Homo sapiens: one gene and its partner. The protein of the gene in region 1 interacts with the protein of each later gene in a pairwise test. Each region holds a gene or a part of one and is shown in the gene's direction. Other genes may lie near its edges.

Evidence for each region.
Region 2: the proteins of AGPAT4 (region 1) and SPACA1 interact in binary tests that used the Homo sapiens proteins (3 or more experiments, as listed by UniProt).

Annotation. Positions count from the first base shown.
Region 1 is NC_000006.12:161,131,039-161,134,861, reverse strand, and holds part of AGPAT4 (1-acyl-sn-glycerol-3-phosphate acyltransferase delta), read left to right. Parts: 3' UTR 1-3,823. UniProt on the Homo sapiens protein: Converts 1-acyl-sn-glycerol-3-phosphate (lysophosphatidic acid or LPA) into 1,2-diacyl-sn-glycerol-3-phosphate (phosphatidic acid or PA) by incorporating an acyl moiety at the sn-2 position of the glycerol backbone.
Region 2 is NC_000006.12:88,054,113-88,057,935, forward strand, and holds part of SPACA1 (sperm acrosome membrane-associated protein 1 precursor), read left to right. Parts: intron 1-3,499; coding exon 3,500-3,601; intron 3,602-3,823. UniProt on the Homo sapiens protein: Plays a role in acrosome formation and establishment of normal sperm morphology during spermatogenesis. Important for male fertility.

The DNA of each region.
Region 1 (3,823 bases):
GCACATCTGCCCACCCTGCACAGGGCATGAAGCACCGTGTGCAGAGATCTGTGGGCAAAAGCCCAGGACGTGACCTTAGGCAAGAGGGGTCCTTGGAGAAGTGGAGGTGTGCATGGTGTGTAGCCTTGCGTGTCTGTGAGCACGCCCTAGTGGACCTGCGCCTGGATTATCGGGCCAGTCTCTCGGAGGGGTCCGTGATGCTGAGTTACGCCATTCACCTGAACTCTGCAGCTCATCGGCTGTAGGATTTGGGTGAGACACTTTTCCTTGCTGACTCATTTCCCCATCTGCAAAATGGGGGTGACGATATCTACCTCTTGGGGTGTGTCAAGGGTAAAAGAGCACACTTTAAGAATCCTAAAGCACTAAGCCAAGGATGAAAGACTAGAAAGCTGCCTCTATGTTGCTACTCTCAAAAATGCTCAGAAATTTTCTTGTCGTACTAAAAATGTGTTATTTTTCTCATTTTCATTCTTCCATTCAACACAGAAGTAATCTAAGTAAGTTCTAAAAACATAGATCCGGGGGCCCACAGACATTCAATTTTCTTCTGAATTGGCTCTGGTATCACACAACACACAAGCAAGCAAACAGCCTGCCTGCTAGGGCCTTGGGTTCCAGGCTGGAGGAATGCAGGCAGAAATCTCTTAGGAAATAACTAAGTGAGCGCCAAGTTTTGAATTGCCTTAGAGCCGAAAGAGAATGTGGCGTGCTGGGGAGAGATCTGGACCTCTTTCTCATCAGTCATTTGACCTGTCCACGAAGAACAATTTTGTTATGCAGCCTGGGAACCTGGTTTCCTTACACCCTGCGCCCTTAATGACACAGACAACCACGGGTACTCCTGGACGGAAGCTCATCACGCCTCCTCAAATACCTTCACCCATGTTCAGGTCACACGGAGGTCACCATCTCCTCAGCACACAACAACTGCTTTGGTTCCCAGGGTTATTTTTTCTACGAGTTGAAAACCCACGGAGCCTAAGCCATCTTTTTGTCCCCTAAGGAGAGCCCCATAGACTAAGAGCTACACTTCCTGTCTGTCTTTCCCACCTTTCCATCTCATTCTAGCTTAAAGCTTATCACGCTACTGAGAGCCTGTTCTGTAGTTCAAGGTGGCAGAGAAAAATACGAACCTTGAGTGAAATCTGGAGAGCAGTGCAGGGTCATCCCCAGACGTGACGGGCCATATCCTAGGCGACTCCTGCAGCTTATAGAAGCAGGGAATTTAATGGACTTCTTCCAGGAAAGCCAGCCCACGGGGACTCTTAAAAAGACACCAACCATTTGGAAGATGCAGCTTGAGGTCTGGGGGACTGGACTGATTCTGCCACCATATAGTGAACACGATTAATCGGGAGGAAGAAGTAAGGCACTCTGTGAGTTAGTCTACCACCCTATTGACTTTGACAGAGAGAAAACCAACTTTTTTCATATGATCACACAGTAGTACTGGAATATCTCGACTGCAATATCCTCTAAACAAATGCATGCAAAGCTTTGTAAAAGCAGCTGATGATTAAAAAAATTTTAAAACATTAGGGTTTTTCTAATATATCCATATGTGGGACAGTGATTTAAATGTCATTAATTGTCCAGCCACAACTTGTAACAGTGATGTGAAAGACACAAAAAAGGCCCCACTGGAGTGGAGGAGTGGTCTGGCTGGTCCCCAAGCAAAACAGAATGGGCTTCGCATAGGCTTTAGAACTTATTCATAAATATTGACCAAAGTGTGAAGCAAGGTATCCAGTGAAGATTCTCTAGGGTCTCTACTTCTGCTCAAGAGATTTAATCCAGCTTTCTCTAAAGCAGTGGTCCAGACTTGCCACATACTAGGTTAAAGATAAAGTGAGAAAAACAAATACTTTGGTTTGCACGTCTCTTGAGGGGCCCTAGGCTGTATGGAGGAATATTTAGAGGAATATTTGTGAGCTGCCATTTGTGTTTAAAAGAACATGAAAGCAAGACGGGCCCTAACCCGCCTGTGTCTGTAGCTGACCAGGAGGCCACTGCTTCCTTCCCCCAGAGCTTCTAGGAGAGCCCCCCAAAATGCAACTCTCCAAGGTCCTGTGGAGTAGTCCCCTCATAATGCCTCCACCACACCTGTGTCTCACGATGCCTTAACTGACGTAGCTCCTAAGTGATGTTCACAGAGAAGGAAATACTTAGGCAAGCCCATGTGTAACATGCTCACAGATGTGCTGGCTTTGCCAATGCTTTCGGACTCCACCATGCTTTCTGATTCTTCTGGTCCTAGTCACGCCTTGGCACGGGGCAGAAGCGGCCGAGCTATGCTGACAGGTGCTGCTGAGAGCCAACAGCCATTCAGCCGAGAAGGCGTTTCTAGGTGAGGGCATGAGAGCTGGCATTCCAGGCTGCTGAGTGCGGCATCTGCAGGTGCACCACATTGCTCCACGGTGTGTTCAGAAGAGACCAGCATCTTGAATCTCAGGCTCTGGGCTCATTCTTTGCCTCTGCCAAGGGACCATTCAGGGGCTTCAAGCCAGCTGCTGAAAATCCCCCTTTTCTGGATTTTTCCCCATCTATATAAGGATATGGTGGCTGTGTGGACAAGAAATTGGTTTCATCTCAGAAGGGTGCTTCCCTACAAAGATCTTCAGAAATTTAATTGAAAACAATTTTTTGAACTTTTTTTGTTTGGCCAGGATGAATGAAGCTGAAGTCACATCCTGAATGTGCATGCCAGACAAAGGGTAAGCAAGCAGTCTTTACAAATGCCAATCCCTCTGCACTCCAAAACCGGAGCCCGTAATGAAGGCCCAGGTTCCAGTCATCACAGGATCCCCCAAGCCAGCACAGTGCCTGATGCCTCCCTAGGCATTAGCACATCCCAGCACTCTAATTCACATCCTCAGCATCCCTGCCTCCTGCATCCAGGGCTTAGGTTGAGTGTTTCCAGAGTGTCAAGTACATTTAAACACAAACCAAATACTCCAGGGTTTTGACCTGTCACAATGGCTTTTGAAAACAACAGACGTACAATTTGAGAGAAGGACTCGATGGACTTCTTAGGCTGAGGACTAAGGACATGTTGCTGTTCCTCTTGGTCCAGGACATTCAATACCATTCACAGCATTCATCACCAACTGACATAGTATCGATCACGACATTCAACTGTTTGAAATTACTGCTATTTTGGTCAAAAACTAAGAAATCAGAAATTGCACCTACATAGTGTGTCTCCTCATTGGAGTCCCATCTCTCTGAGCACAGGGATGGGCTCCTGAGCTCACAGCCCTGCCCTGCCCCCCCAGCAGGGCCTCACCCTCATGGCCCTCAGTGAATAGTGACTACATGAAGGGGGCACTTACTAGAGGCCTGAGTAATGGAATTTCAATTAGCTTCTGCTTCCCTTTTCTAAAAAAGAACCACCTTTCTTAAGAATAATTAGGCCAAAATAAACTTGAGTAATTTGTACAGTCAATATTTTGAAGTTTCGGAGTTACCAGTGAAATAGCAAAGCTGTTCTCCAGGAAAGGACATCCAGGTTCCCACCCAGGCCTTCCTTCCTCAGCTCCTGCAGCCTCATCCTAGTTTAATATGAAGGTTGTGAATGGGTTAAAAAGCAGTTCTTAAGCACCTACTTAGATCTTTTCAGTATCTGGAAATAGCACCCAGGGCTGTGTTAGTAAAGCTTTTCACTGGGTAAGAGTCATACAATTTTTACATTTAATTTGTTTTTTTAAAACAAGGCAGTCTTGTTTTACATATTGGAATGACTAGATATTTTTTGACATTTCTGGCACCTCTGGTTCTGCTGAATTTTAAGGGAGGTGAGTGGTATGTACACAAAGTTAAG
Region 2 (3,823 bases), about 73 Mb from region 1:
GGATTTTTATTTCTAATAACTATAATGTATACACAAAACTCAGGGTGATTGCTTTAAACTGTAAGATATTTTCAGTTTATAATCTCTAAATCTTATTTTAAGCCAGCTCCCTATTTTTTTTTTTTTTGCACATAAACTGCCTTCACCAAAGTAAAATTTTCTCTATCTCACAGATGTTCAGAAGACGAAAGATTTTCCAATGCATCTCACAGATGTCTTCCCACATATTGTGTTGGCAAATTTATCAAGAATTTGCTTATTTGTAATAGTCCATTCTAAATTCTACATTTCTCCAATTTGCGTGTCATGTTTTGGAGAAAAGATGTATTGGCTTTGTGGGGAGGATAATATTCAAAGAATATGACTTAGTCTGATCATTCCATGGGTAGAAATTGGACATAAAATTTCTCTAACAAGTTTACAATGAAGTTGATGCTGCTAGTTAGAGGACTATCCTTTGAGAAACAATGCTGTAGACCAGGGTACTGAGAAGACCATAGATAATTCACAATCAAATTAAATTTCTTCTAAATAGAATCTGCCTTGGAAAGAAAATAGTGATGAGAGGGAAAACGGGACAATTATCAGAGGATAAGAAGACAAAATCCATTCAGATCTAGATCAGAATGAATTTTGCAGGGGTGGCGGTGTCAAAAATTACACCTGAATTGTTTTTATTTGGAGAAGCTTTTTAAAATTGTGGTACAGTATACCCAACATAAAACTTACCATTTTAGCCGTTTTTAAACATACAAGTCCGTTGACTTAAGCATATTCACATTCTTGTGCAACCATCACAACCGCCCATCTCGAGAACTTTTTTATTATGTCAAACTAAAATGCCCATTAAACACTAACTTCCTGTTCCCCCCTCCTCCCAGCTCCTGGCAACCACTCTTCTTTCTATCTCTTAAAATTGTTTTAACCTGTTTTTTTTTTTAACCTTAATTTCTTAGTAAGTCAAGAGTCATAAAATGAGAGAAATCCATGTAGTAAGCCTGCAATTACTTATTTGTGGTTTACATCTTTGTTTAGCTACTAACTTCGGAAATTTTCACAGGTAGAGAATTATTTTTATGACAGTTCGAGTAATTGCCATTGTTTTCTATTATTTAAAGACAAGTTTAGAAATTGTACTCACTCAAATGATTATTTTTTTAAAATTATTTGCCTACTATGTGCCAGGCATCGTTATAGATGCTAGGGATATGAGCAGACAAAGCAGACAAAACTCTCTGCCCCCAAGCAATGTATAGTTTAGTAAGAGCAGACACATAATATGTAAAACATGTAATGTATCAGATGGTAATAAGTTATAAGGAAAAAAATAAACTAGGAAAAGCAATATTTCATGCCGAAAATGTTAAAAACCTTCCAATTTAGAACTAGAAGAGAAAAATGCCTTGATGAAAATTCTGTTAAACTCCTGAAACAATATTTTAGCAGTCAAAAAGTTTTCTTTTATATCCAGGCAGATTTTTAGATGTTACTTGGTATTACAGAAAATCCCACACCTACATGCATCTCAGTGAACTGTATTTAGCTAAATAAATAAATACATAAAATAACTGCTTTAAGCCGGGCGCGGTGGCTCACGCCTGTAATCCCAGCACTTTGGGAGGCCGAGGCGGGTGGATCACGAGGTCCAGATATCGAGGCCATCCTGGCCAACATGGTGAAACCCCATCTCTACTAAAAATACAGAAAAATTAGCTGGGTGCGGTGGCACATACCTGTAGTCCCAGCTACTTGGGAGGCTAAGGCAGGAGAATTGCTTGAAGCCGGGAGGTGGAGGTTGCGTGAACTGAGATGGCACCACTGCACTCCAGCCTGGCGACAAAGCGAGACTCCATCTCAAAAACAAAACAAAACAAACAACAACAAAAAACCTGTTTTAAAAATATTAACAATAGCATGTTAATTACTTCGGAATTAAGGCTGTGCTTCTAAAGACGCTTTCAGGTTGGCCGTGGTGGCTCATGCCTGTAATCCCAGCACTTTGGGAGGCTGAGGCTGGCGGATCACCAGGTCAGGAGTTCGAGACCAGCCTGACCACCATGGTGAAACCCTGTCTCTACCAAAAATACAAAAATTAGCTGGGCGTAGTGGCACGCGCCTGTAATCCCAGCTATTCAGGAGGCTGAGGCAGGAGAATTGCTTGAACCCGGGAGGCGGAGGTTGCAGTGAGCTGAGATCGCGCCACTGCACTCTAGCCTCTGCAACAGAGCAAGACTCCGTCTCAAAAAAAAACTTTGATAAACTCAAGTGGAGCCGTACTTCAGCCATTCTCAGCCATCATCTCTCTTAACCAAAGACCTTCTTCCTTCCATCCTTCCATTTTCTTGTTTCGTATGTAGCCTTCTCCCTTACTATTCAACGTGCGGTCCACAGACTGCATCAGTATCACCTGGGAGCTTGTTAGAAATGCAGAATCTCAAACCCATTCAAGAACAGCTGAATCAAAATTTGCATTTTAGTAAATCTCCAGGTGACTTGCATGCACTGTCAAGTTGGAGAAGCAGTTATAAGACACCTCTAGTCATCAACTTCCCTTTGCCCTCTAAGATAACATCGTAGAGGGGCTGGAAGAGGAAATCTGGTAATTAAGGAAATAAAAATGGACTCTTTCTTAGCCTGTCTTAACATGGGACACGGTTCAACATGTAGCTAATCCCATGTTTTGTTATTTCTCTCAATTGTGGTGATGTGAGGCCAACTCTGGAATTCTGAGATCAGTTAGGAGAGTTAAGTTCTTGTTACAAAAAGTGTGACAATCTAAAGAGAGCATCTTGTTGGAAATGGAGATTTGGTCAGTAATAGGTTCTCCTCTCTATATTTAATACAGACATTTTATGAATCTAAATATTTAAAGGCATCATTTATGCTAAAATGTGATTTTTTATTTTCCTCCAGAAACTTTCCCCATGCTTCCCCAAAAAGTTCCATGGTCAAATAAGTTTGGGAAATATTGTATACCACTATATTCCATCAAATCCACGAATTTATGGACTGTAAGAAGTACATTTTATGTACTCTAAAAAGGAAAAATACTGCCAATTAATTTATGACATGTTATCAATTGTAAATGTATTCTGATTTTAAAGATGTTAAAATGTTTTTACATCTTAGATCAATGCGAATGTACACAATAGCATGTTATTTTACTAGTGTATTAAAAGTTCCCTCAAAATTCCGTAGTAAAGCGGTCCCTTTAATTTCATTTGATGTAACATTTTCAAATGTGTATGATCATGGAATCCTTTTTCTTATGGTAACCAGAGGAACTAGTGTTTCACGTAACTCACTCCAGAAAATGCTGTTTTAGGAAATAATTCAAAATGAAGAGCCAAAAAAATTTTAAGTGTTATCGTTCTGAATTTAGAAACTTAATTTCTGAAATTAGAAGAAAAGTCTTAAGAAAAGACCTAGGTGGGAAAGTGAAGACACTCTGGAATCAGTTTTTTTCTTAACATTTGCCTTTTTAAATTTTAAACCAAAGGTATTGGTGTTAGAGAAGTTATATTAACAAATGGATGCCCTGGTGGTGAATCCAAGTGTGTTGTACGGGTAGAAGAATGCCGTGGACCAACAGATTGTGGCTGTGAGTTGAATTATGTATTGGAGGGAGACTGTGGGCAAGAGTTTACTCTGGGGAAATATTTTTCACCTCAGGTTGCCACTGAGTAGAAGGAGGCAACCAGTTGACATACTCAAAGGAAATCATAAAATTTTAAATTCCACTTCTTCAAACAGTTATAGTTCTGAGCAACTTTCTGATTTTGCTTCACATTTTTTCAGAGACATCTAAAATTGAACATATATT